Homo sapiens: one gene and its partners. The protein of the gene in region 7 purifies or fractionates together with the protein of the main gene of each other region. This does not show direct contact. Each region holds a gene or a part of one and is shown on either strand. Other genes may lie near its edges. The genes, in order: SLC12A2, SNX14, ANO5, RNFT1, ZMPSTE24, EDEM1 and MS4A15.

Region 1 (3,645 bases), on a different chromosome or scaffold from region 7:
TAAACTTATAGAATGTCAAACTTTGCCTTCAACTGTTTTTATTTCTAGTCTCTTCCACTTTAAAACAAAATGAACACTGCTTGTCTTCTTCCATTGACCATTTAGTGTTGAGTACTGTATGTGTTTTGTTAATTCTATAAAGGTATCTGTTAGATATTAAAGGTGAGAATTAGGGCAGGTTAATCAAAAATGGGGAAGGGGAAATGGTAACCAAAAAGTAACCCCATGGTAAGGTTTATATGAGTATATGTGAATATAGAGCTAGGAAAAAAAGCCCCCCCAAATACCTTTTTAACCCCTCTGATTGGCTATTATTACTATATTTATTATTATTTATTGAAACCTTAGGGAAGATTGAAGATTCATCCCATACTTCTATATACCATGCTTAAAAATCACGTCATTCTTTAAACAAAAATACTCAAGATCATTTATATTTATTTGGAGAGAAAACTGTCCTAATTTAGAATTTCCCTCAAATCTGAGGGACTTTTAAGAAATGCTAACAGATTTTTCTGGAGGAAATTTAGACAAAACAATGTCATTTAGTAGAATATTTCAGTATTTAAGTGGAATTTCAGTATACTGTACTATCCTTTATAAGTCATTAAAATAATGTTTCATCAAATGGTTAAATGGACCACTGGTTTCTTAGAGAAATGTTTTTAGGCTTAATTCATTCAATTGTCAAGTACACTTAGTCTTAATACACTCAGGTTTGAACAGATTATTCTGAATATTAAAATTTAATCCATTCTTAATATTTTAAAACTTTTGTTAAGAAAAACTGCCAGTTTGTGCTTTTGAAATGTCTGTTTTGACATCATAGTCTAGTAAAATTTTGACAGTGCATATGTACTGTTACTAAAAGCTTTATATGAAATTATTAATGTGAAGTTTTTCATTTATAATTCAAGGAAGGATTTCCTGAAAACATTTCAAGGGATTTATGTCTACATATTTGTGTGTGTGTGTGTATATATATGTAATATGCATACACAGATGCATATGTGTATATATAATGAAATTTATGTTGCTGGTATTTTGCATTTTAAAGTGATCAAGATTCATTAGGCAAACTTTGGTTTAAGTAAACATATGTTCAAAATCAGATTAACAGATACAGGTTTCATAGAGAACAAAGGTGATCATTTGAAGGGCATGCTGTAATTTCACACAATTTTCCAGTTCAAAAATGGAGAATACTTCGCCTAAAATACTGTTAAGTGGGTTAATTGATACAAGTTTCTGTGGTGGAAAATTTATGCAGGTTTTCACGAATCCTTTTTTTTTTTTTTTTTTTTTTTTGAGACGGAGTCTTGCTCTGTTGCCACGCTGGAATGCAGTAACGTGATCTTGGCTCACTGCGACCTCCACCTCCCCAGTTCAAGCGATTCTCCTGCCTCAGCCTCCCTAGTAGCTGGGACTACGGGTGCACGCCACCATGCCCAGCTAATTTTTGTATTTTGAGTAGAGACAGGGTTTCACCGTGTTGGCTAGGATGGTGTCTATCTCTTGACCTTGTGATCCACCCGCCTCAGCCTCCCAGAGTGCTGGGATTACAGGTGCGAGCCACTGCGCCTGGCTGGTTTTCATGAATCTTGATAGACATCTATAACGTTATTATTTTCAGTGGTGTGCAGCATTTTTGCTTCATGAGTATGACCTAGGTATAGAGATCTGATAACTTGAATTCAGAATATTAAGAAAATGAAGTAACTGATTTTCTAAAAAAAAAAAAAAAAAAAATTTCTACATTATAACTCACAGCATTGTTCCATTGCAGGTTTTGCAATGTTTGGGGGTAAAGACAGTAGAAATATTATTCAGTAAACAATAATGTGTGAACTTTTAAGATGGATAATAGGGCATGGACTGAGTGCTGCTATCTTGAAATGTGCACAGGTACACTTACCTTTTTTTTTTTTTTTTTTAAGTTTTTCCCATTCAGGAAAACAACATTGTGATCTGTACTACAGGAACCAAATGTCATGCGTCATACATGTGGGTATAAAGTACATAAAATATATCTAACTATTCATAATGTGGGGTGGGTAATACTGTCTGTGAAATAATGTAAGAAGCTTTTCACTTAAAAAAAATGCATTACTTTCACTTAACACTAGACACCAGGTCGAAAATTTTCAAGGTTATAGTACTTATTTCAACAATTCTTAGAGATGCTAGCTAGTGTTGAAGCTAAAAATAGCTTTATTTATGCTGAATTGTGATTTTTTTATGCCAAATTTTTTTTAGTTCTAATCATTGATGATAGCTTGGAAATAAATAATTATGCCATGGCATTTGACAGTTCATTATTCCTATAAGAATTAAATTGAGTTTAGAGAGAATGGTGGTGTTGAGCTGATTATTAACAGTTACTGAAATCAAATATTTATTTGTTACATTATTCCATTTGTATTTTAGGTTTCCTTTTACATTCTTTTTATATGCATTCTGACATTACATATTTTTTAAGACTATGGAAATAATTTAAAGATTTAAGCTCTGGTGGATGATTATCTGCTAAGTAAGTCTGAAAATGTAATATTTTGATAATACTGTAATATACCTGTCACACAAATGCTTTTCTAATGTTTTAACCTTGAGTATTGCAGTTGCTGCTTTGTACAGAGGTTACTGCAATAAAGGAAGTGGATTCATTAAACCTATTTAATGTCCATTCTTATATCTGTTTAATAAGTCTTTGCCAGCTTTGTGGTTTTATCTCATTTCGATAACTATTGCTTCATTCATTTCTGAATTTTTAAAATAGCTTTTACCTTAATATTCACGCCCTGGAAAAGTCGTTCACTATTCTTAAACCTTTGCAATAATCACTGTTGATGCTCACAGTATGACTGAACCATCTGAGATGCAGCTCATTATGGTATTTTTTTAAGTGACCTAGCTTTTCTAATTCTGCTTTATCTTTGGGCCAGATCTCTCATTTGTGAATGAGGAAACTGGAAGATTAAAAGCGATTCATAGTCCCTGAATATAATCTGATTCTTTCCTTCCAAAGATTTTTGTCTAAGCTCATTTAGAGTTTTAGAAAGCATTTTCATTTTCTCATTTGAATATGACTGTAGGTGTGTATATATGCAGGACAGCTATTTCTTTTACTCTTGAGAAAGCAGCTTGGAGCAGTTTAGGGAGTTTTCCAAGGTCATGGGGTAAATCAAGGAAGGATATTGGTCTAGAGCCCAGGTCTTTTATCCCCAGGAATTTCTTTATTATGCATTCACTGCTGGCTGATCCATAAGATAGATGGCTGGGATAGATTGGTCATTTCCAGATTGGTCATTTCCAAATTACTTACACCTGTCCGCCCAGTAAATGTGTGTTCAGGTAAGGCAAATTATAGTTAGAAATATAGGTTGGCTACAGGCTGCCTTTAATAGGTTTGAAACAAAATGTAAATATCCATTTTTTGATTTGTCATCTTCCTTATTCTCAAGCCACTATTCAGGCCAGTTTACTCACTTATTTGGAAAGCTAAAAGAGAATTTGAAGGCAACTATGTATGTGACATTTTCTAATATCAGACCATCCAACAGTTTTTAAAACAGGAACATCATTCACCTTTGAGCCAGCAGGCTTTTGTTGTTCACTCACCAGGAAGAAAAGATAAATCCATTTGAT
Region 2 (3,631 bases), on a different chromosome or scaffold from region 7:
AGAGAGCGAGGTTCAGTGTTTTCACAGAATATAGCATCTAAAAAAGAGTAAAAAGAAATATTTCTGGAATTTTCATCTATTTATACACAAAGGATTTCCTCATAGTAGAAATACTAATAAACCAAAGCAAAACAAGATTTCTTCCTCTTTAGATTCAATTAAAATCATAGAGTACACAAAATATGAAACAAACACATTAGAAAATACAAACCTCTGAGAAGTGTTATGAGTGAGACCAAACGGTGCTCCTGAAATAGCTGTTCTAGTTTACACTGAAGATAGTAATCAGTATACATTTCCAGGGTGTTTTTAAAGAGGATTCGAGTTCCCATTAAGAGATGATGAAGCCAGTCAGGAACCTGGAAAACTACCCGTCCTGAGAAAGGATCAAATGGGATACCTCATTGTTCCAGATGAATTGGTATTTTTGAAATTTGCCAATGTAGAAAACACAAATGACCATGGTCAATATTTTATTTGTAAACACTAGCAACTTTAATATGATCAAGGCCAATCGTATTGAATTATTATAAAAGGTATCTTCAATTAAAAAGACAGTTATGATGGGGCAATACTCAAGATCATTATTTGCATCACAGAAGAAGTAAGATGAATGAAAAACAAGTCTTAAACCACTTAGATCTTACCTACATACATCAGGTAATCATAGACTCCTTCTACAGTCATCACCTCCATAAAATAATTCTGATTTTGCTTTCTCTCTGTATTTTCAGCACGGTTTGCATTATTTTTAAACAGATCATTGAAAAGCTAAAATAAAAGTTGGAATAATAAAGAGATATATAGTTTATTACATCTGCTGACGATAATCAATAAGGATTAAGTGTCACACAGCAAAGGCATTTAAACTTTTTCCAATCAAAACAGAATATTAGATAGGTTAATATATGCTTCTAAAATTCCCCATTTATGCCCCGAATTGCAATAAAAAATACATGTTCCCCAAAAATATTACATAAAAACTAAAATATTCATTTTAGTTACAGTAGATAATTCATTATCCATTAAAGACCCCTTTGTTTTTACATACCACAAAAGCAAAGTAACATAAAAAGATGTACAAATATATTATTGATAGCTAACTTTAAAACTAACATGATTTAGGCCAGGCGCAGTGGCTCACGCCTGTAATCTCAGCACTTTGGAAGACGGAGGCAGGCAGATCACCTGAGCTCGCAAGTTTGAAATCGGCTTGTCCAACATGGTGAAACCCCATCTCTACTAAAAATACAAAAAAATTAGCCAGGTGTAGTGATGCGTGCCTGTAGTCCCAGCTACTTGGGAGACTGAGGCAGGAGAATAGTTTGAACCTGGGAGCCAGAGGTAACAGTGAGCCGAAATCGTGCCACTGCACTCCAGCCTGGGTGACAGAGCAAGACCGTCAAAAAAAAAAAAAAAAAAAAAAAAACACTAACATGATTTAAAGATTATAAATCACTATAAGTAGAGGTAAAAATCCAGCGTTAGGTGAAATTTATTTGGACAATATTCAAAGCCCACAAAGGCCTAATCAATGTTGGGGTGGGGGGGAACTAAAACAAGATATTAAGAATTAATGGTTGCAGTGAGCCAGAGATTGCACCACTGCACTCCAGCCTGGGTGACAGAGTGAGACTCTGTGAAAAGGGAGAAAGAGGGGAGGGGAGAGGGAAGAGAAGTAAGGAGACTGTGGAGGAAAGTATATTCGATTTTACCTGAAGATGAATTTTTTAAAAGCCTCCTAGAAAAGTATCCTGAGAACAAAGACCATATATTCTATTGGCTCTTATGTCAGATATTATTAACACAGACACATACTTAAAACATTTTTCCCCAACCCAAAAAATAGGAAAAGGGCTCTCCCTTCTGATATATTATTCCCTCTACTCTTTTAAATTTTCAGTGTAATTTTTTTTTTCACTAAAAAACAGTGATATTATATAGTAAGTCTGGAAAACGGGAAAAACAACTCAATTTTGTTTTCCCTCTGTATTTTCAGCACGGTTTGCATTATTTTTAAGCAGAAATCTAAAATAAAAGTTGAAATAATAAAGAGATATACAGTTTATTACATCTGTTGACAATAATCACTAAGGCTAAATAAAGTGACACAGAGCAAAGGGGCATTTAAACTTTTAAATTAAAACTCAACCACCTAATAGTGTTACTATTAAACTTTTGTATATTAACTTGTACTCTCTATATACATAGCCACAAATCAATGAGGTTCAAAAAATATCACATCCTACTTTTTCATTTAGCACCATATCAAATATCTTTATGTTGCTTTATAGTTTTCATAAGCACAATTTCATCTGCTGCAAAACACTCCTTGAATAGATGTTCCTTAAAATAATCATTCCTACAATGTTAGAATTTCATGTTGTTTCCAATTTTTCACTTATGTAAACAATATTTTAATAAACACCTTTACATGTTATAAGCTCTTCTCTTATTTTTCTCCCTGACAAATTCCTAGCATTCCTAGCATGAGTTCAATAGGTTATATTTTGTAACCTTCATGACTCATGAAGTAATAAACCTGAAGAATTTTGTAATTGTTAAAGAAATTAAATTGGTTATAAAAAATCTTCCTACAAACAAAACTGGAGGCCTAGATGACTTTACCAACTCTATCAAATATTTATAAAAAGTCTACCAAAAATAAAAAATGCTAATAAAACTTTGATACCAAAACCTAACAAGGACAGAATGAGAAAGAAAAATTATAGGCTATATTCTACCCATAAACATGAATGTAAACTTCCTTAATCTTTTTTTTTTTTTTTTTTTTTTGGAGACAGAGTCTTGCTCTGTCCCCCAGGCTGAAGTGCAGTGGCGCGATCTCAGCTCACTGCAACCTCCACCTCCCAGGTTCAAGCGACTCTCCTGCCTCGGCCTCCCGAGTAGCTAGGATTACAGGCACCCACCACCACGCTTGACTAATTTTTGTATTTTCAGTAGAGGCAGGGTTTCACCAAGGTGGCCAGGCTGGTCTCAAACTCCTGACCTCAAGTGATCCATCCACCTTGGCCTCCCGAAGTGCTGGGATTACAGATGTGAGCCACTGCACCTGGCAACTTCCTTAATCTTATAAAGGTTATCTATTAATACAAAAAGAGCTACACCACACTATTCGATGGTGAAATAATTAAACAATTTCCTTTCTATATAGCAGTCCTAGTCAGGAATAAAACAAAACTGCAATCATCTGCAACAATTGTGTCAATATAAAAGAATTACCAGATATTACTAAAACTAATGTTAAGTCTAGCAAGACGACTAAATAAAAATTTTCTATCTATATATACAAGTTATAAAATGAAAACATTAATAATATTAAAGATACCATTCAGAGTATTAACAAAAATAAAAGATAGAGGTCCTCTGAGCTTCCATAGCTCCCCATGCTGGGCACTACACCTTGGCACTAAACACCTTCTTGAGGACAAGGAATGTATCCTTATATTCCCAGTGCCTAGCACTCAATCGTAGGCATGTAATAAAATGTTTGTTTAATGAATGGATAAAATACTTTATAAGCCATGAAAGTTAGGTAATGCCATCCAATAAACATAAACACAGTATAGCAATTAATTTCTTATTATTGAAAGTTGGTGACATATAACCT
Region 3 (4,439 bases), about 38 Mb from region 7:
TTTAAGAAATAATTTAACAATTTTCTAAATTAAAATCAACAAATTAATCAATATACATTGTCCTGCATCCATTAACTACTAAGAAAACACATTTACTTCTGTATTGTGTCTTTGCTTGAGAACCTGAAGCAATCTAACAGCTTCATAATGTTGCTTTCCAGATAAGATCAGTCTTGAAACTATTATAACCAAATTATTATCTCTAAGAACCAAGTTGTTTTATGTTGAAACCCAAAATTTCAGTCTCGAGAAAAGGAATTCTGCCTTTACCAGGAAGAACTATCTGGGATTCTGATGGTAGTTGAATGTGTTAGGAATAAACCTCTGCTATGATACATTAACACCTTAATGTGTGAGTTTTCTTATGTCATCTGATCTTGGCAATTCATTTGCATATTTTAAAATGATAGGATATATAGGGCTCAGTCAGTCTCTTTGATCCATTTCTTTTTGCCCCAACATTTTTCTTAATGGGGAAGGAGGTATCAAATAACCCAAGAGAAGACCACAAAAATAAATAGATGCACTGGAAAGTGATGGGACAGCCCAAGGCCAGTGTTTCTTACTAAACTGCAAGACTCCATAATTTCCCAGTATTCTGATTCTACCTGCACTTTCAACAGTCATTTACAGCACCTCAGAAAACAACATCTGGAGAGGGCCCAGTCAATGAAGCAGAGAAGTAGTACATTTCCAACATCACAAAGTTGGCCTCTATAAAAGTGTATAAAAACTTTGAGTTTAAAAAAAAAAAGAAAAAAAAAAAAAAGAAAGGGTAAAATTGACACATGGCTTCTGGCGTCTGGCCCTAAAACCAGAGGATAAAGTGAAGTAAGGCAGATCACCTGCTGCTTCCTCACTATACTGATTAGAGTGTTGATTTAGCCAGCTGTGCTTTGTTTTCCTCAATCATGACATGCTTGGCAAATTCATTAGAATTAATTCCCAAGTTCTCTTTTAATTTGTTGAGCTCAAAATCATGGAGAATCTTGATAGTCATTAACTTTTCTCTCTTGATTCTCTCCACAACATCTTTTGGAACATCAGGTATCATCCAGGCCAGCAAAAATTTAACTAAAAACACAACATGCTAGAGGAAATATAAAGGAAAGATTAGACGCTGTTAGAGGTGTCACATGCTCAGCAGAAAGTCTTTACAAATCATTTCACTTATTTAAGAAACTGCTCAACATATGAGGTAGAAAGGCAAGGAAGAAGATATGGTCTCTGTCCTAGAACTTTCATACAAAGATCAACATCAAACAAATAAATATATACTTAAATATGTAACTAGCAATATTCCAGTTGAACATGATTATTGAATATACTCTTTATCACTGCTCCTTCCTGAAAACCTGATAAAATATTTATAAAGGAATTAGACTCAAAAGAGTGAAAAAGGCTAGCAAACTTGCAAATGGTGATGTGGTGACTGATAGTGGAAACCAAAAAGACAAAAGCCAATTTTGTTTCAGATGGTCACAAAAGTTCAGGAAAGAAGGCAATAAGGACTTTTGAAGGTATTAGTTTGAGTTGGAGTTGAAAACAAGAGGATTAGATACAAATCTGCATAAGGAGCACTTGAATTTTTGGAGCCTTTCTCCCATCTGTATCCAGGTATTCTTTCACTCCATGCTATACCCTGGAAGCAGCTGAAGAGTTTGTTTTCTGCAGAAATTATACCACAAAGCTGTGAATCCAGGGGCACCAGACACAGTGGAGGTATGACAACATATTGAAAAAAAAAAAAGTAAAAACAGTGAAATTCAGCACAATGAACTGTGAGATACATAGCCCCTCTGCCTTGCTCAGGTCTTAGAAAATAGGTAGCCACAAAATATCTCAATAGACAGCTATAAAGGGCTTTCTCTGGGAAAAATAACTATTCTGTAAAAGCAGAACTGTGGATGTCAAAATTTTGTAAGGATCCAGTGAAAATATCAGCTCACTACGTTATCAACCTACAGTGAAACCCACCAAGTGACATCACTCCTGTATGCACAAAATGCTTAAAATCAGCTTTTCACTTCCACACTCTTAAACATGAGCAGAACCACCAAATATGTAGGTAAGTCATCTCTGACATGGAAAAAAAAAAAAAAAGGAAAAGAACCAGATATAAGGAAAGGAGTAAAAGAAAAAAGTAGAATTTTAAAAAAGATATTAATCCAGGTTTTCATAGAAAACAAATAATTAGAATTTCAAACTAGGAAGTGTAAATCTGAATAACAGCAGTTCCAGAGAGACAGCACAAAGAAAGAAAAAATTTATCAAAGACATTATCAAAAATTTATCAAAGAAATTATGCCAGCAAATTTTCTCAACTTGAAGGGTAAGTACGTTTTTAGATCTAAGGGGCTCAATGAGTGTTTAAAACAATGAATATTGACAAATAGCAAAGAACCATCTTGTGAAGCTTCATAAAAATGGGGCTAATGACAGAATCCTAAAACCGTATTGATTTTAAAAATAGATAATACACAAAGACTGGGGAGTCAGAATAGTATTGCATTTTGTAGCAATACTGGAAGCTGAATGAAAATGAAGCAATATCTTCAAAATTTCAGGAATACCAAAATAAAGTTGATTAAAAATTTTTTTAAGAAAAACAACTTTTAATTATACATTCTATTCCAAATAATCACATGTAAGGAAAGAAAAGAAATTTTCAATCTTCAATTTCTCAAAAATGGACTGCCCATAATTTTTCCTCAGAAAATTACTAGAAGATGTGCTTCACCAAAATAAGCTAGTAAACCAAAAATGGGAGAAACATAGATTGCAGAAAATTTAGTCTTCAATAGAAGACAAGATGAAGAGAAGTCCCAGGATGATGCTTGGTTGGAGCCTGCAATGATTACAAAAAATTAACACAAATAATAAATAAATTAAAACAAAAGAATTCCGGAAGTAATTTACTGGCTGAAAGGTGATCTAAACTTCTGACGCAAAATGTTGGAATGAAAGACTGATAAATTCATAAGGAACTAAGAGACAGAGGGAGAAAAGAAAAGTACAATTATAATAAAAGAAATATGTTCAGAATATAAGACAGGAAACAGATGTGACTAATATTTATAAAGTCATAATTTATAAACCCTGACTATTGTATTTATATAAAATCTCTTAATCAAAACTCTGATGGACAGAAATATTTCAGAATTGAGATTAAATATTAAACATATGTAATTTAGTGTATAAACCAGCAGGGTCTCAGGTGGCACTCTGTATCAAACACTTAAATATTTCTGCAGCAAAGTAAATGAATAGTCACACTAAAAATAATAAAGGCAGAATTAGATCATATGTTGCTGCTAAATAAATTATCAAAATACTTCCTGTTTTCTGAGGTTTTGAATTTCAGAATGAGACCAAAAAAATATGCTTTAATTATTGAGCAGTAGGAGAAAGTTTTTTTTCCCCCTCTCTCTTTCTGTCTGTGTGGGTGTGTGTGTGAGATCTGCCAAAGTAGAATGTCAGTAATTGATAGCTCAACCTAAAAAATAAAAATATATAACTGCAAAATGATCTTCTTTTGCCATACAAGGGCAACTACTAGAAGAATGAGTTAAAAAAATTGAGAAGTTTACTTTGGATATTAGGATTTTAGGGTAGGCAGGTATATTATGTACGATTGCTCTTTTGTTTTTTTCCCATGCAGAACTATTTGATTTTTAAAATTACATGTGAAACCTTGATAACAATAAAAAAAAACAGAAACTGGTTGGAATGGCATGTTCTTGGGTTAGGATTGTCTTTTATCGGGCTTTATTCCAGGGTGAAAAAGTACCTTTCTTTTATTTTCTCTCCCTGATAGGCCTTCTTGCCCTATGATTTGTATCACTCAATTTGAAACTTTGCCCAATACTGCCTCTGTATTGTTTACCTTTTCTTGCAGGCCTTATCTCTATAACTACACTAGATATTCCACAAGAGAGGAAGCATAATATAGTAGACAGAGCATAAGCTTGGGAGTGAGGCACATTTGGCATTGAGACTCAGCGCTAATGTTAGTTAGTTAACGTTAAGCCAGCTACTTATTTTTGCTGAATCTCAGATTCCTTTTCAAAGGTGAGCGATAAGGTCTAATTAACAATGTTGTTATGATTTAATACAGCCTCTGGAACTAGTAAGTAATAGGTATTCTCTAAAATCAGTGGGTTATTTCCCCTTTTCCTGACTTGAAGGGAAAAAAACCATATTTGTTTTCCTTTCCTTTTCTGTCACCATGACATGTTCAACAATAATAAGTGAATAATAGGCAATCCATTGTACTAAGAATATCCCTAAGGTGCTTTTTATGACTACAAATACAATACTTCCTTCAAGACAGTTTACTGAGATATTGCTAACTTTCTGATGAGAGGTTACCTTTAGAAATATCTGCCTAAAGAGAGAAGAGAGTAACTCGAATGAAAGTTAAGAACAGCTTACTTCCA
Region 4 (4,439 bases), on a different chromosome or scaffold from region 7:
TGAAATCATTAAATAATACATAATAGGATTTTGAAAGATTGTTAGATCTACTAGCTTTACAAAGGATGATAGTGCTTCAAATTCAACATAACTGGCTTAAGAGACTAAGCAATCTGAAATGTAACTATTATAAAATCTATAGCCATGTATTATTTGACCCAGGACTGCCAAATTGAGCTTATTACCTGCAGCAGTGGTTCATAAAGTCAATCCAGCCAGAGGTTGGCTGGTTGAATGTAACTCATGTGGAAAGCTTGCTTTAAAAATAGATTTCTCTGTTCCACACAATATCAATTCACTAGGACCAGACATATTGGGATGTGACCCAGTAATCTATTATTTGAAAGGTCTCCAAGTGAGTGCAATATGAAGAAGACTTAGGGACCACTGAAGAATTTTCTGCCACTAGGTCTAAAAATTATTCGAAATTATAAAAAGCATTTAGTGCTAAACATAAAAAAGTTTTACGGAGAAACTGCAACTGTAAATGTCGCTTTGGTAGAATAACTACTGTCAAAACTAACTGAACAAAAATGCAATTATTTGAATTTTCTTCTCTTCTAATGTCCTAATAACAAGTTACTCGTCTCTAAGATTTTAACCTCCTCACCAGATTCAGAACTTAGTCATTAACTAGATGTGATGTCAATAACCCTCAGTGAAATTTGGAGAAATCAAAATGTTACAAATGAAACCTGCTTTCTGTAGAAATGATGGGGAAGAGGTAACTAAAGAGATGTAAGAACACCCAAGTCAGTCACGGTCATGAGGGTAAAGCATGACTTAACATAGCTGAAGTTATCTAAACTTCTTGTACTAAAACGTCTCAGGCTAACAACATCAAAATCAAAGTAAAACTCAAAGGATAAAGATATTAAAAATTGAGGTTTTTTGAAACTGGTAATAAAGATTTCAGAAATAAGTCAGGATACTGTTAGATGATCTTGGTGTCAATTTCCCTTCAGTAAGGTGTCATTTAGCAAAGTACATTTGCAGATAATTATGCTGACAAGCTTTTAAGACGTTACTCATCTGGCATCTTGGAGACTCCCTCTCCAGATAGTAACTGCCATTTCCCTGGTAAAGGAGACTTGAACAAATCCAAGTATTGATGACTGATATCCTCTCTGTAGTTTGTCTCAGAGAAAGAATATCAGGGTATTTTCTTGAGAGTATTTCGGCACAAATCTTACAAGACCAATTATAGTAAAATGGTTGATGCTCACATAATCATCAGTTGAACTGACTTGGACAAAGCTGAACTCTCTGAATTTTATTATGTCTTGTCTAGAGAAACAAGCTTGCATAGGATGTAGCAAAGTTTGTTTCTACATTGCTAACTCTATCTTAGGGAAAAGGCCCTGGCCAGTTAGTCTCGTTTACTTTGTAGACATAATTCTTTTTTTATTTTTACGGTATATTATTCGGTTGGCATTCTTTTAAGTCAGTCTCCTTGGGCCCTGATGAAATGACTGCAAAATTGAGAATCAAACCCTGAAGTCTGCTGACCACACATAGGTACTAGGAACCTTTCAGGCTACTAAGTGGTAAATTAGGGTTCTCTATGACATCCTTTCACTGCAATTTGCAACATCAATAGAATCACACAATAATGTTATAAATGACACCAGAGACTCAATTAATTGTTAAATTTCATGCCATGAACGTATTTATGCACATATAATTGAGCAATGGGGAAATCTGCTCCAGTAAGAAAACTGCAAGAGACATGATTTTTGGCAGTGAGCTTTCTAAACAATAAATTACAATGGAAGGATTTTCACAGGTGAATAAGGAGTTAATAGGAACAAACAAAGCCCCCATTTGTGGATTAAAAAAGAGGAACACAATTTCATAAGATTGTTAAGGGTTTACAAGCCTTAAAAATGTCCAGTGGATTGAAGAGGCAAGAGACAAGTTCAAATATATAAGCACTGCAACAATTAGCAGGTGGTTGTCAATGTGTGATTCAAGAATCTGATCACAGAGATAAAACTCCTAAATTATTATAGCCCCAAGTGCCAAAGTACTAGAAAATAATCAAAGTAAAAGAAAAGGATCATCTATTTATGAAATCCATTCTTGTAAAACTGCTGAACTAAAAAAATTTTTGCAGTGAAGAAAGGTGAAGGTGTTTTTCTTAACTGATAAAAAGTACTTACTGGTTGTGTAAAAAATATTCGTAAAACCTGTCTGAAAGTTCTCAGATGCCCAAAAAATTCCAAAAGCTGAAAAGAGAAATAAGAGATCATTTATTAATTCAAACAGTCCTATTTGCTAAACCCAAAAACCAAAGCTGAAATCCCATAACATCAAATCCTCATATTAACTTAATGTTCATTATATGTCACATCTAATCATTTTGTGCTGAGTATTTTATTCAATTTATAGATTTGAGCCATCTCAGCAAGCTGAAGTACATTTAAACACCTAGAGTAACAATTTGATCAAGACAAATACAACTATGTCAAAGTCAAAGCAATTTTATCTGATTCACCTGTTTTTAACATTTAGATTTTAAAGTTTCATAAAGTGATTATTAGGTTGAGGGGTGCAGGCATGGAGAGAACAGGACAAGATACTCTACTAGTTTAAGAATTATGTGTATGACAATGTTACTGTTGAGGATGGGTATGTTCTATTCCACTTGTTTTCCCTACTTAGATAATCCACGCTATGTGAAGGTCGACTCCCCTTCCCTCCAGTGAAACCTGAGGACCGCTGGATTAAGATAGTCTATTTCCGTTTCTCCATTTCTAAACAAATATAGAACCTGCTATTACTTCAAACTAGTGATATGAAGATAAACTATAAAACTGTTAAAAGAGGAAAACAGTAGTATGTATCAGTAATCATTAATGTGAATCATGCAGTGACAAGATTTGTAATGTTACCTACTTTTAATATGAGGTAGAGTAAAGCCAGCAGTATCCCAAGACTCCATCTAGTTACGTTACCAAACTCCCCATAGCTTATAAGGTAGCGAAACCAAACTGGTATGGGAACAAAAGTTCGGTAGTATTGACACAATTCTTCTAAAAGCATATACCAGTAACCCTAAAAAATAAGAAGAAAACAAATAGAGCTACCCAAACTACTTAACTACATAGCACAAACAATATTAGACTGAGAACACTGAGTATATTATACAATAATATAAATAACTATAAAATTAATCTTCATAATGATTATGACTGAACCTCAAGCTGGTTCTCACATATTACAGTCACTGAGTGGCCTGCTTTGAAAGAATTTCTAGGTTGGACGCAGTGGCTCCCAGCACTTTGGGATGGGCAGATCACCTGAGGTCAGGAGTTCGAGACCAGCTGGCCAACATGGTGAAACCCCGTCTCTACTAAAAATACAAAAATTAACTGGGTGTGGTGGTGGGCACCTGTAATCCCAGCTACTCAGGAGGCTGAGGCAGGAGAACTGCCTGAACCCAGGAGGCGGAGGTTGCAGTGAGCCAAGATCACACCACTGCACTCCAGCCTGGGCAACAGAGCGAGAGACAATCTCAAAACAAAACAAAACCAAAAAAAAAGATACAATGAGAATGTTTTATGTATACTGCAAGTAAAACCTATGTGAGTATGTTTTTGCTGATTATAAGAATTTAAAAGTTTTTAGTGCATATGGGAAACCACTGAATAATTGTACATAGTCAACTGTCAATTGATAATGCCCTGGAGAACAGAAGTACACATCTAAATAGTTTCCCACATATGATGTGGGGACTGATTTTAAAATTATTCTGAAGCAAATATAATTCTGATTTTATCCAAATAGGTTAATAATCAGGTTCAAGTGCCTGAACAAATGGTTGCTAAGCTGAAATAATACAGATAATTAAGCTAGTTAGCAAACTGAAAAACTGCAAAAGGAGGATTCATTTAAACAAAGACTAAATAGCATTAATGTGATTCGATAACATCACTCCAATAAAGCATAAGTGAGTTTCTTACCTTAGATTTAAAAGGCATGATGAAAGAAGGCACCAATAAAATAAGGCATTTTAAGCCCATGAAAAAGAATTTCAGAATGAAGTCTGTAATTCCAACAATCCAAAATACTTCCCAGAAGCTCAAATGGTCCAAAGTAGGATTTAAAAAAATTAAGCTACCAAAAGAAAAACATCAAAATTTATCAGAGCAACATACAAAGATAAAGTATTAATAAAGGGTTTTAATTTGCTACAAATATTTTATTTTGATATGTAAAAAATATGAGTTTGGCAGGATGTCAGAGTTCACAATAATGGAATGGAGGATCATTTTGCTTAAAGAGACTTTTTAAACCTGTTTGGATTTTAGATCTTCCCTTCATAGAATAAGGAAAAAGTCTTCACGGTTTGTCATAGTTGACACCTTTCTAGCCTGTAAATGAAAAAAACTCATCAATACCAGACATCTGCTGTGTTTTTCTTAACCAATTCCAAT
Region 5 (4,439 bases), on a different chromosome or scaffold from region 7:
TGGCTATTTCACAGGCATGATCATAGTGCACTACAGCTTTGAGCTCCTGGGCTCAAGCAGTCCTCCTGCCTTGGCCTCCTGAGTAGCTGGGACTACAGGTGTGTGACACCATGCCCAAGCTGAGGTTTATTTTAGTCTGAATTACATAATGCTCATTGTTTCATTTTCCATTGATGGGATCAAGATCAGAAAATGGGCGCTAGTTGGATTTACAGGTATCTATTGTATGGCAAATTAAAGTAAGATGAAAAAGAGCAGAGAAAATGCTCTAAAAATGCTTAAGGAAGTGCTATTTCAACCACATTGTACAATTATGAACTACAGGTAATTAATTTTAGCTGATAAGCCAACCAAGTAACAGCACACAATCAAGTTCTACTAATTCTTTTTTGGGAAAGACTTCAGGTCTATTGTGATTACGCTAAAAGGTAGAACTGCGTGTTATGATTGACTCATGAAGCATCAGAAATCCCCAAGATAGTTTTGAAAGGACTATACTTATTACCACCTAGAGATTTTAATCACTGTTAGTAGCATTATCCTTTAAAATAAAATTCATAAGTTTACTCTGTTATCAGACTACTCATTTCAATTTAATTCATCAGACAGATATTATGCTCTTACTATCTGGTACTATTTGGGCCTGGGAATACCAGAGCAAGTAAGTTCCTTGTTCTCAAGTTTGAGGTCAACATAGTTGTTTTAATATAATTTAATCTGTATAATAAAGAATGTTTTTTCTTTAAGAACATGTTCATATGTTATTCTGACATTTACTTTTCAGGTTCTTGTCACAATCTATGCTGATTATATTGCCCCTTTATTTGACAAATTCACACCTCTGCCTGAGGGAAAGCTTAAAGAAGAAATTGAAGTAATGGCAAAGAGTATTGACTTTCCTTTGACGAAGGTGTATGTTGTGGAAGGTAAGGCTACCTGGGGATAAGAAAGTTTTATCCAAGTGGTTTGTTTTATTTGATACTTTATTCTTAAAATTTTAATAAAAGAATTAATCAGTTTTTGTTTTTTTCTTTTTAAAATTTGTTATTTAAAGGCTAGGAGTTTACCTTTTGGCTTTTTAAGATTTACAGAAATTGATAACATAGGCCAGGGATAGAAACTGGTGGCTTGATACCAAATCCTGCTCTTGTCTGCAGCTATGTTTGTTTGGTTTTACAGTATTGTTTTAAATTTTTGGCCAAGGCTTTTTCACTCTCTGTTATGTTATCTTATATATTAGACTGATTTATTCACTTCTGTTATCTGCCTAGTTCTTTTAGGTAGTTAAGTTGGACTCTTGAATAGTCAAATTCTGTTTAGTATTAGTTTGGAGGCTCTTAAACAAAGCCAGTGTTATTGGCCTTGTCTCCTCCAAGAAAATATCCAGTGTTCTGGAGGACTCACCTGAAGATTGATTACCAAAGACTGCAGTACCACTGAGTACTGCAGATTTGTTATACTCTGCTTTTTTGATGATTACTTTTGAGATTTAAGTGGTCTCTTGACCGTTACTCAAATCTTGACTTCCCATTAACACCCAGTCTATTACTTTCTTTGAGACTTTGGTAGTTGACTATTAAAGTCTCAAAGAAGACTACGGAGATGTAGAGAGAAACTGTTGTAAGGTTCTATGACTTTCAGAATTTATAAAGTCCATATAAATGAATGTAATAGTTCTGTTCCTGCCACTTACCAGTTATAGGATCTTGGACAAGTGACTTCACCCTTCTGGGTTTCAGTTGTATTTCCTCTAAGCTATGGTTTCACAAATGTTTTTTGTAAAGGGCTAGATAGTAAATATTTTAGCTTTGCGGGCCACTTGTTCTCTGTTGCAACTATTCAGTGCTACTATTATAGCGCAAAAGCAGCCATAGACAATACTAAACAAATGAGTGTGGCTGTGTTCCAATAAAACTTTATGAAAATAAATGGCAGATTGGATTTGGCCTGTGAGCTACAGTTTGCTGATCCCTGCTCTAAAATAAAATATTACCAGTGAGAAGCAGCAGTGTTAGATGAAGGAATAGAAGCAGAAACAATCACAGGGTTAGAGGAGAACAGAGATGGTCACAACTGAAAAGAATGAATCAACAGCAACTGGAAGAACATAGAAATTTCAGACATCTGGCTGGGCGCTGTGGCTCACGCCTGTAATCCCAGCACTTTGGGAGGCCAAGGCAGGCGGATCACCTGAGGTCAGGCGTTCGAGACCAGCCTGGCCAACATGGTGAAACCCTGTCTTTACTAAAATACAAAAAATTAGCTGGGCGTGGTGGTGCGTGCCTGTAATCCCAGCTACTTGGGAGGCTGAGGCAGGAGAATCGCTTGAACCTGGAGGTGGAGGTTGTGGTGAGCCAAGATCAAGCCATTGCACTCTAGCCTGGGCAACAAGAGCCAAATTCTGTCTAAAAAAAAAAAAAAAAAAAAAATATATATATATATATATATATATATATATATGTCAGACATTTAGTGGCTCCTGAGGATATACAGCCCAACTAAAGGCACGATTGGAGTAGCTTAAAAGTCTGTGGAGAAATGGTAGAATAAGCCAGTTCATACTTACTTCTTTAGCCTCTGAAATAACTACTCTTTTTTTTTTAGGTAATATTAAACTAGAAATTTAATCATTAATCAGTACAACAGAATAGTCTCTAAGCTGCTTTTACTGAAGGAGCAACCTAAGTTGCTGATCCCTTAAGTTACAATCAGATAACGTGAAATAATAGTTAATGCTATGACAGTGGAGGTAGTCAATAGAATATGTGAAATATATCGGTGCTATTTTCTTTTTATCTTTTTTTTTCCCCCTACAACATCCAGAGTATGAGAGCTATTTTCATTTTAGATAAAATAGTCAGGGAAGGCTTTATGGAAGGTTATGACCTGAGCTGGGTGTTAATGGGAAGTCAAGATTTGAGTAGGTTGGGGGCAGCATTTCAGACGTCAGGCTTCAGGGTCAAAAGGCTTGGGTTTGAATCATAGCTCTACCACAGATTACCAGTGCTGGGCTTGGTGGCTCCAGCCTGTAATCCCATCTACTGGGGAGGCTGAGGTGGAAGGTCAGGAGTTCGAGACAAACTACTTGTGTGACTTTGCGCAACTTAGCTTTGCCAAACAGCAGTTTACTCACCTATAATGTATGTTTTAATTGTTGTTAACAACAGTAACAATTCTCAAAAATATTTTGAATGAATGAATGTTGTTGCTGACAATAACAACACACATTACATATTTGTAAATTGGTAGGGAGATTGTAGTGAAAAGCCAAGAATCTTGCTCTCAAAATATTATCAGATAGCAAGTGCTATGCAGCAAATTAAACTAGTTTGGTCTGATAAGTTGATACTGTAGATTGGTCATCAGATTGAGCTGAGACCTAAAGGGAGGAGCCGCCCATTTGACGTCAATGGGAAGATGTTCAAGGACCATGAAGAAGTCCAGTGTGGCTGCACCATAGCAGGAGAGTGTTAGGAGATGAAATCTGAGACATAGGCAAGAATCAGTCCACATAGGCCTTTGTAAGTCAGGGTAAGGAGTTTGGATTTTGAGTTCAGTGGGAAGAGCCATTGAAGGCTTAGACAGGAAAGTGACATGATCTGCTTTGTGTTTTTAAAATATCCTGGGCTACTGTATGGAGAATATGTTGTAGAGACAGGCAAAAGTCTAGGTAGGACATAATGGTAGCTTAGACTAGGATAATAGTAATTAATGGAGAGAAGTGGATACATTTGGGACAAGTTTTAGGGTAGAGTTGATTGAATTTTCTAATTGATTGCATTGGGAGAATAAGGGAAAGAGTGACATCAAAGATAATGGCCTAGACTTTTGACCTGAGCAGTTAGATATATGGTAGTTTCCTGAGATGGAAAAAAATAGGAGAAGAGTAGGTTTGTGGGGAATTAAGACTTCTAATGGCTATATTACATATTGAGGAACCTACTAAACATTGTATTAGAATTCTGCAAGCAATAGAAACCAACTGTGGCTGATTTAAGCAGAAAAACTGCTTATTGAAGCACTATTTGGACCAGGCGCAGTGGCTTATGCTTGTAATCTCAGCACTTGGGGAGGCCGAGGTGGGCGGATCACTTGAGGTCAGAAATTCGAGACAAGCCTGGCCAACATGGTGAAACCCTGTCTCTACTAAAAATACAAAAAAAAAAAAAAAAAAAAAAGCCGGGCGTGGTGGCGGGCGCCTGTAGTCCCAGCTACTTGGGAGACTAAGGCAGGAGAATTGCTTGAACCCAGGAGGCGGAGGTTGCAGTGAGTCAAGATCGTGCCACTGCACTCCAGCCTGGGTGACAAAGCAAGACTCTGTCTCAAAAAACAAACAAACAAACAAACAAAACCAGTATTTGGCCAGGCGTGGTGGCTCACGCCTGTAATCCCAGCACTTTGAGAGGCTGAGGCAGGTGGATTACCTGAGGTCAAGAGTT
Region 6 (4,439 bases), on a different chromosome or scaffold from region 7:
CTGTTGTGGAAGCTGCCTGTACACTGCAGGACGGTCAGCAGCACCCCTTGCCTCTCCCACTAGGTGCCAGTGGCAACTCCTACGCCTCAGCTGTGAAAATCAAAAACGTCTCCAGACGCTGTTCCAATGTTCCCTGAGGAGCAAAATCACCCTCAGGTGAAGACCAGTGACATAATTTAACATCCTCACTCACTTTATAAAGAAATGGCAGATCCAGGGAAGCTAAAAGGCATCGCAGCAACTGCTTCGTGGCCAGGACTGAAAGCCACATCCCTGGGGTCCTTAGTCCGCCCAGAATTTCAGAAAACATTTCTGCTACTTGAAAATACTGTGTTTTTCTGAGCTATGTTTTTCTCATTCACAACTCACTAAACTCTAAATGCTTAAGACTATTTCTTTAATTAAAACCCCCCCACCCCCACCACTTTTTTTCCTCAAAGCAGATGCACATCTTGAGAACTAACCAACTGTGACATCCCTGGAAGCAGTTGTCTAAATACATTCATTATCTGCTTCATCTCCAAAGAAACATTTTCCCCACGCTTTGTAGTAAGTTGAACTTACTACACCCTGCTCCTCATCCCTGGCAAGATCAAGACTGGCCGGTCCTTCCATTGGTCCCGACTGCCCCCACCAGCCCACATCTCTGTGCTTTTGCAGGTGCTACTGCTTCTGCCTGAACACCCTTTCTGGGATACCCCTTTTCATCCTTCAAGGATCTCCAGCAAGTGACCTCCTCAGGGAATCCTGCCTTGATTTTCTCTGGAGATTACTCCCTACCCTCTGTGTTTCAACAGCACTACAGACAAACGCCTAGGATGGAAGTGGATTCCCCACTAGGCCATGCTCCTATCCAGAACCGGGAGCCCTTCTGAGGGCCTGAATCCCTGGTGCCTGGAATCATGGGATCAGATCTATTAGTGAGTATGGCAGGTCAGAGATGTCTCCTTCCTAAAAGAGAAGACACTGCCTGGGTCCAAATCCTGGCTCCACTGTGGGACCTGAACCTCTCTGTGCCTCCCTTTCTTCAGCTGTAAAATGGAGATGTTAAAAGTAACCACCCCTCACAGGGCTGTTGTTAGAAGTAAACAGATTAATGTACGTAAGCGTTTAGAATGGTGCAAAGGCTAACCCTGGTATGTGTTTGCAAATGCTGGCTGTTATTAACTCTTCCCCCTCTCACCCTCCTTCCCCTTCCTCCCGATTATGCTTTGTCCACTCAATCAGCGCTCCATGACTGATGGAAATGGGGGCGGGGGTGGTTATCTACACTCTGGCCTATCGATTTACTTCATAGACTGATGGTGAAGACCTTCACTGGGGCATTAACGGAAAAGCACTGAAGCACAGTCGGCGATGAGAGGGCACCCCTAATGCCAAGGCAACCCATCTGTGGGGAGGCTGCCGAACTCCTGACCACCAAGGCCCTGGGGGATAACAAGATTTGAAATTTTGACTGACCTACATTTCCCTATCCTCACTTCCAAATCATCCTATTTGATTCAAATCAACACAACTACCTGATACTTTCACTAGGGATGCAAGGACTTCCATTTCCAAATTTTTCCTGCTGCTTCTCAGGACAATCTAGGCATGTGGAGTAAAGCCCCACTTTAAATGAATGTGGGTGTTTGCTGCACTTCGAAGAGCATCTTCATTGGGACCATCGTGACCATCACTGCTTTTTTTCCCTTCTGCTGCTGGTAAATGATTTTGCTGAATGTCTTCCATTTGCCCCTCCAGGTCCACTGATGGATCATATCAACAGGCTCCCTCGGCCTCCAGCTTCTGCCCCAGGCAGCCAAGAAGATGCTCCAGCAGGCAACTGGGGGAGCGGGGAGGGGTCACATGTTGACTCTGCCGGCTCCCTCCAGGCAAGGCCTTGAAAGTCAGATCTGAGCCGTGGCTCCTGCTGAGTGCTCGCTCCTCCCACAAGGCTCCCCCCTTCCAGGATCCTGTAGCCACTCTCCCCACCAGCACCTGCAGCCAGCAGTGATGATGCCACCGCTGCTCCTGCGGTTTCCCTATACCCTGACAACAGCTATGTAAATGGTGTCTTTAGGAGGTGTTTTCAAATCTCCCAATCTGCATACACCATCAATTTTCTGTCAGGAAGTCTGAACAACTAAGCAATTCATAGTATCTTCTCTTCCTCTATATGCAAATCACCCCTGGAAAAAGCAACTCACGTTGGAGCTGGAGTTGATGACTTTTAACTCATGAGGTTTCGGCCTGTGCACAGACTTTCCCCCTTGGTCCTGCCCTCCCTCTTCAGAGAAGAATTCCTTCCATGGCAATTCCCGAAGATGCTCATCCACAGATACAATGTGTCCCTCTGTTGTGAACATGTATCTGGTTCCAGACTTGTGTACTGGATTGTCTTCATCAAACAGCTAGAGGGAACGGAGAAAAAGATACAACCAATAATTGTAGCACACTGGGAACTGAATCATGGGGGCGTGTCCCAGCTACTCAGGGAGTAGAATTTGCTTGGGCCTCATGCTTCTCAGTGACAACTGGGTGAAAAGGAATTGACTGACAACTGTGGTGCCCAACCCAGGCTGCAAGGCAGAATCACCTGCTTCATCTAAACTCAGATGCCCAGACCTGCCTCTCCCCTACACATACCCTGCCCAGACGCAGAGACTCAGAAATTCTGAAACTAAGGCCCAAGCACAGGTAGTCTATAAAAGTTCACTGGATGATTTCCATGTGCTACCTAAGAGTTCTCCTGCTGGAATTCTAGAACTACACCCAACCTCACACACACCTAGACCCTGAACTGTAAATGCTGACAGGGAGGGACCAAGTTTTATCCACCACCATTTCCCCAGGGCCTAGCACAGAGCCCAACACATCTGCCAACATTCACTTCACTTCTTGCACAACAAGGGTTGGGCTCTGAAGACGCAATGGACACAAGGCACAGTCCTTTCCCTCAATGGTGCATGTGACACGGAACGAAAGAGCATCTAGAAAGAACATCTAACCCAATATGGGATGCAACAGTGCAGGAGAAGGCAAGTGTTCTGTGAATGTTGAATGAATGAATACCTAGAAACTCTTTGAAACTTTATTGGTCACCTAAACTATTTCAAGATGAGGAAAAATGAGATTCAGTGCAGCTTGTCAATGTTTACACAGTAACAAGAGAAGAACAGGGTAGACCACAGGTTTTCCTCTCCCCAGACTCTAGGTTCTTTCAGCTAGCACACCCTCCAGGGTCACCTTCCTTTTACTCTAAAACTCGCCCTGTTAACGTCCTTCTGACACCAGTGGCTGCTGGATGGAAATATGTAGCTAGGCTCTGACCAGCCTGATTTAGCAGAACTGAGCCACCTGCAAGGAGAGCAAGAACCACTGCACACACAGGAATCGACAGCAGGACAGCTGTCTTCCCACTGGACAGATCACATGGGCTGCTGGTGGACATACCTCTGCAGTCATCTGTGAAAAGACCCCAGACAGAGAAGAGTATCGTCTTAATGGATTAGACCAGCAGCTCCAAAACCTGGCTCATGTGAAACCACTGGAGGCACTTGTCAAAATGACAGATTTCTGAGCCCGCTTATTCTGAAGATTCTGACTTAATATGGCTGTCATCTTAGCAAGGGCCCCAGGGTGATTTGGACCCAGCTAGCCCCAGGCCTAGGAACCACGGAACTAGATAAACACAATTTATCACAGCTGCTTCTATCTCTGACCCTCTGCCCAAGTTCTCAGTTGCCATGCTATCTTCTAACCTGGAAATCCTGCCCTCTGTTTCTATGTGGCCATACTGAGGAAAGTGGCAGGGGGCACGAGAGTGGCTGTATGCACGAGGCAGAGCGGTGAGATGGAAAGAGCACCAGACAGGGAGTCAGGACCACAGTTCACACCTCAGCTCTGCCACAGCCATCGCCATACTTTGAGCAAGTCGCCTGACCTCTGTGTAGGCTGTAGTTCTTGTGAGGGAAATGATGAACATATGAACATTAGGTAATACCAAAGGGTTCGTCCAGGTCCAGAAATTCTCTCTCTCTACACACACACACACACACACACACACACACACACACTCACTCACTCATGTGCCTGAGGATGTGTGTATGGACAGAGACAAGGCTGAGCTGCAGGTCTTGGCTAAGATCACATACATCAAGAGAAGTGAGAAGCCATTATGAACACAGCTCTCTTCCTCAGAGGCGTCTTCCCCGACCACCTGTAGTTAGATACAGAACTAACACTGGTTCTGTATCAATCGTTACCAGGATTTCCCACAGTTTGTAATCATAAGTTCAGTTCTTGGTTTACTTGACAAATGACTTTTCAACAAGGTTGGAAACCATGAAAGAAGATAGTAATATCCTTTGGTTCTGACAGCGTTTGCATCCTGGGAATGCACAATGTCCAGCACATAGCTTTAGCCAGTAAGTACCTGTCAGATGGAAGACTATGCG
Region 7 (4,439 bases):
GCGGGATGACAACAAACACTCCATTGCTGGCGGGAGCTGCAGACATCGTGCTCAGAGAGCCTGGGAAACAAAGGCTTGGGAGATAATAATGGCAATGATGATTGTCACCCATGTGCATAAAGCTTTTTAGTTGATAAGCAACGTGCCTACTTCCCTTGCTTACTGCAGCCCTGCCAGTATGGCCCCAAACGCTCTCATCAAAGCTGGGGAAGCTGAGACTCAGAGAAGCGAAAGATGTCTGAGGTCAAGGGCCTGTAGGTGGGGTAAGACTGAGATTTGAATTCTAGTCTCTCTGGTTTCAGAGGCCTTGCTCTTAATCTCTGAGCTATATTATGTGGAAAGCTCCTTTTGGAGGAGTGTTTATTTAAATGCCCTTCTTTTCCCAGAAAGGGCAAGTGACTTACCTAAGGACACACAGCTAGTGCAAGGTAGAGCTTAGCTAGAGTACCGGTTTCTTCACCCCGAGACCAGGACTCACTGCCACTTCCTGCCTCTCAGCTCTCAACTATTGAGCTAGCGTCAATAATTCCCCTGGGTATGGGAACTTCCCACCTGCTGTGGGAAGCTTTCTATTTGGCCACCCAAGCAATTACCATTGATGTAGCCAAGAAATGTGTAGATATGGAAACTTTATGCAGAGTTTATAGCTTGCAGTGAATGCCAAGAATGAGTTCTTAGACAATTCCAGCTGAGTGGGCCTCGAGCGGGGGTGGCGGGGAGCTCTTCTGAGAGAGTCCACCCCAGCATCTGTCCGCCAAGTATTTATTGAAAGAGCTTGTTAAACCACAAACATCCACTAGATGGCTTTTTGAGGGTCATGAGACACCTATGACCTTATAAAAGCTCTCAAACCACCTTCTTAGGAGGCTGTTTTCAGCGTTCCTTATTACACACCTCAATCCTTGTCCTGTTTTTAGGGTCAAGGAGTTACATTCTCATGCATAAATAACATACACAGAGTGCCTCAGTATTTTTCCATGCCCCAACCTCAAATGCCATGTACATAAGCTTGGATATGTTGCCGTGCACCCTCAACATCTCCCCCTTCTTTAATTTTTAGAGTATGTTGGTTATTTAAAGCGAGGTAAGCTTTTATTGCTTTTTCTTGGTTATAGATGCACTGAGTGACAGCACAGAGCCATTTGTACATACCTAGCAAACAAATACAAAAAAGAATAAGTATATTGGCCATTACCCAAATGTGTATGTTTAACCCAGATAACTAAGTGTTTGGGTTTAACTATTGAAAGCCTTTTTATAATTGTTGAAGGGTATTTGTTTATAATTGCTGTGACCATTTTTTAAGTTGTTTTTTAAATTTACACTTAAGAGTGGGAATTTGAGAAGACTAATGATTGTGATAAGCCCCTTGCAGGTGTGTTTTCACTCTCTCCCAAGCATATTGGGAGCTATTATATGGCAGAGGTGTGACATAGATAGAATTATATTGCCAATTACAATATAAATGTTGATGGGTAATGAATGCCAGCTGCTGATCCCCCAGCCATTCAACTGCAGCTTTAAGAGCCTCCAGGTGAGACAGAGTAGTTTGATTAATATTTACCTGTTTTTGAAATTTATGGGTTACATTATATACCATGTGGTTCACCACTGAAGCTGTGTGAATAGATTTTGTTAGAAAAAGCAGCTGCAGTAGCAGCAGTTGCTAATATAATAATAGCTGAGACTAAAAAAGCAATTAAAGTGGCCAGAAATCTTTTTTTCTGAGTATGAGACAGTGCTTTTCTAAACAGCTGCAGGGTTGAATCTCCTTCCCAGCTCCAGGCTAAATTTACAGGCAGCCAAAATTCTGCACGCCATTTTAAGATCATGACATAGGTTATATTTAACTATGTAACATTTCGATGAGACAGGCATGTAGCATACTAACTACTGGAAGAGACTTTACTACTATAAAAGGATTGATTCTGCTCTATATTAGGAACACTTTGCCCAAACAAAAGTATATAAGAGTGCGTAGTACAAATCACAACTATGTCAGTAACATTATTATGGAAACAGAGGGTATAATTGCCACTGCTAGTAATATACTCATCATGTGAAAGAACCCATTCAAAAAAAGGAAGTTCTAATCTCCAAATTTGGGTATGAGCAGGGCTTAAAGCTTGTTTCCCTTTTAGTTGTAATATTGGTCCTGAAAGCCTGTACTCTGACCAGGTGATAGACTTACTGGGGACTCCCAGATCCAATAGTCTGATTTGCAGACATAAGATAACCATGGGGACTCCAATCAAGTAAGGTGCCATTATCAAACAGAGGCCCTTGACATGGCGCAGGCTGTCTGGATGGAGACCACTGAATGGCCTCAAACTTATATCCCCAGTCCCTACTCAGACGGCATATAGGAAGATCAGGCACTTGTGTAGCTTCATTAGAGACCTCAGTAAGATTAGTGGTAATAGCAGAAATAAAGGTCAAGTTTGCAAGCTTAGCATCCCTTTTACACTGATAGTAAAGATACTCCTGAAGAATAAGAGTAACACACTTAGCATGTGCTATTGTGGAAAAACAAAGAGGGGGATTACTAGACAATACAACCAAGGAGTTATTAAGTTTAATCCATCCCAAATTTTCCACTGAAGGGTAAGACAGGGGCATCCATCGACCTCTCGTCCAAGAAGTATCATTAGATGACAAAGGCAGGTCAGCATCCCACCATGAAATAACATTAAAAACAGGGGGATTTAGAACATGACTCCAGTAAACATGTTCTTGAGGTGATCCCACTTGGCAAAGGACAAGAATTACCAGCCACCCCAACATCTATGTCGTCTTACTTTCTCAGAAGTTTTCCCAATTACCCCCAGATACATAAGAAACTGATTCTCTGCAGTTACAGAGGCTTCTATGCCTGCAAGCCGGATAGTTGCCTGTTGATCCAATTTCTTTAGCTGTCCCCAGGTAATGTCAGGTGCCTTCTGAGTCATCACCGTCATTGTCAGTCGATTCTCCAATGACAGGTCCTGTTCTCGAGAAGAGGGCCCGATATTCCCCCTTTTTTGTTTATTAAGATATACTTTACGAGTTTGATGAGCTTGTTTAATAATGGCCTGACTGGTTGAGTTACAGAGAATCCCAGTCTTGGGTTGTATGTTGATCTTATTGCCAAAGTTGCAATGCATAGCCAAAGTGAGCACTAAGATAGCAGGGGCCATTATCAGTTTTACAGTTTGTGGAAGGCCTGGAGTCATAATAGATTCAAACAAATGAGCAACTGCATCTTTAGTTTTTTCTCCGGCATGGGGATAGCATGTATTAGGTCTATATAAGTGTCCACAGTAACATGGAGAGATTTAAAACGTCCAAAGGGTGGATACTGAGTAACATCAGTTTGCCAGATAGCATTAGGCACCAGACCTCGTGGGTTGGCACCAAGTCCTAAGGAAAAAGGGGAAAGAGAATGCCATTGGCAATCAGGATAAGTTTTAATAATCATGTGAGCTTGAGCAAGTGTTAAATGAAACTGTTGTTTAAGACTGCAGGCGTTCTGATGGAAAAAAAGCATGATCAGCTTGAATTCGCAAAAAAGCAGGAGAGTCTGCAAACCACATCTGTGTGTGTACCAGAGCATTAGCTCGAGCGTTCCCTTCTGATAAGGGACCAGGTAGCCCAGAATGAGAGTGAATATGTGTGATGTAAAGAGGGTGATGATCGAAGGGGGCTTGCCCCTCCACACCTGTGGGTATTTCTCGTCAGGTGGAGACAAGAGACTGAGAAAAGAAATAAGACACAAAGTACAGAGAAAGAACGGTGGGCCCAGGGGTCCGGCACACTCAGCATGCGAGGAACTGCACCGGCGCCGGTCTCCGAGTTCCCTCAGGGTTTATTGATTACTATTTTCACTATCTTGGCATGGGGGGTGCGGCAGAAGAACAGGGTGAACAGGGTGATGGTGGGGAGAAGGTCAGCAGGAAAACATGTGAGTAAGGGAATCTGCATCATAAATAAGTTCAAGGGAAGGTACTGTGCCCAGATGTGCACGTAGGCTAGATTTATGTTTCTCTTTACCCAAACATCTCAGTTAGTAAAGAGTAACAGAGCAGTATTGCTGCCAGCATATCTCGCCTCCAGCCACAGGGCAGTTTTCTCCTATCTCAGAATAGAACGAATAGTCGGCTTTACACCGAGACATTCCATTCCCAGGGACATGTGGGAAACAGAGGACTTCCTCTTATCTCAACCACAAAGAGGCCTTCCTCTTTTACTAATCCTCCTCAGCACAGACCCTTTACGGGTGTCGGGCTAGGGGATGGTAAGGTCTTTCCAATCCCACGAGGCCATATCTCGGGCTGTCTCAGTCGGGGGAAACCTTGGACAACACCCAGGCTTTCTTGGGCAGAGGTCCCTGCGGCTTTCCGCAGTGCATCGTGTCCCTGGTTAATAGAGAATGGAGAATGGCGATGACTTTTACCAAGCAT

What was found.
Region 1: the proteins of MS4A15 (region 7) and SLC12A2 purify together in Homo sapiens (affinity purification with mass spectrometry; one large-scale study listed by BioGRID and IntAct). This does not show direct contact.
Region 2: the proteins of MS4A15 (region 7) and SNX14 purify together in Homo sapiens (affinity purification with mass spectrometry; one large-scale study listed by BioGRID and IntAct). This does not show direct contact.
Region 3: the proteins of MS4A15 (region 7) and ANO5 purify together in Homo sapiens (affinity purification with mass spectrometry; one large-scale study listed by BioGRID and IntAct). This does not show direct contact.
Region 4: the proteins of MS4A15 (region 7) and RNFT1 purify together in Homo sapiens (affinity purification with mass spectrometry; one large-scale study listed by BioGRID and IntAct). This does not show direct contact.
Region 5: the proteins of MS4A15 (region 7) and ZMPSTE24 purify together in Homo sapiens (affinity purification with mass spectrometry; one large-scale study listed by BioGRID and IntAct). This does not show direct contact.
Region 6: the proteins of MS4A15 (region 7) and EDEM1 purify together in Homo sapiens (affinity purification with mass spectrometry; one large-scale study listed by BioGRID and IntAct). This does not show direct contact.

Annotation. Positions count from the first base shown.
Region 1 is NC_000005.10:128,187,006-128,190,650, forward strand, and holds the end of SLC12A2 (solute carrier family 12 member 2), read left to right. Parts: 3' UTR 1-2,672; downstream 2,673-3,645. UniProt on the Homo sapiens protein: Cation-chloride cotransporter which mediates the electroneutral transport of chloride, potassium and/or sodium ions across the membrane. Plays a vital role in the regulation of ionic balance and cell volume.
Region 2 is NC_000006.12:85,513,859-85,517,489, forward strand, and holds part of SNX14 (sorting nexin-14), read right to left. Parts: intron 772-3,631; coding exon 648-771; intron 377-647; coding exon 212-376; intron 38-211; coding exon 1-37. UniProt on the Homo sapiens protein: Plays a role in maintaining normal neuronal excitability and synaptic transmission. May be involved in several stages of intracellular trafficking. Required for autophagosome clearance, possibly by mediating the fusion of lysosomes with autophagosomes.
Region 3 is NC_000011.10:22,276,195-22,280,633, reverse strand, and holds part of ANO5 (anoctamin-5), read right to left. Parts: coding exon 4,435-4,439; intron 1,091-4,434; coding exon 869-1,090; 3' UTR 1-868. UniProt on the Homo sapiens protein: Plays a role in plasma membrane repair in a process involving annexins. Does not exhibit calcium-activated chloride channel (CaCC) activity.
Region 4 is NC_000017.11:59,954,326-59,958,764, forward strand, and holds part of RNFT1 (E3 ubiquitin-protein ligase RNFT1), read right to left. Parts: intron 4,120-4,439; coding exon 3,966-4,119; intron 3,058-3,965; coding exon 2,899-3,057; intron 2,229-2,898; coding exon 2,163-2,228; intron 1-2,162. UniProt on the Homo sapiens protein: E3 ubiquitin-protein ligase that acts in the endoplasmic reticulum (ER)-associated degradation (ERAD) pathway, which targets misfolded proteins that accumulate in the endoplasmic reticulum (ER) for ubiquitination and subsequent proteasome-mediated degradation.
Region 5 is NC_000001.11:40,271,110-40,275,548, forward strand, and holds part of ZMPSTE24 (CAAX prenyl protease 1 homolog), read left to right. Parts: intron 1-784; coding exon 785-926; intron 927-4,439. UniProt on the Homo sapiens protein: Transmembrane metalloprotease whose catalytic activity is critical for processing lamin A/LMNA on the inner nuclear membrane and clearing clogged translocons on the endoplasmic reticulum.
Region 6 is NC_000003.12:5,211,273-5,215,711, reverse strand, and holds part of EDEM1 (ER degradation-enhancing alpha-mannosidase-like protein 1), read right to left. Parts: intron 2,394-4,439; coding exon 2,190-2,393; intron 1-2,189. UniProt on the Homo sapiens protein: Extracts misfolded glycoproteins, but not glycoproteins undergoing productive folding, from the calnexin cycle.
Region 7 is NC_000011.10:60,759,341-60,763,779, reverse strand, and holds part of MS4A15 (membrane-spanning 4-domains subfamily A member 15), read right to left. Parts: intron 75-4,439; 5' UTR 47-74; coding exon 1-46. UniProt on the Homo sapiens protein: May be involved in signal transduction as a component of a multimeric receptor complex.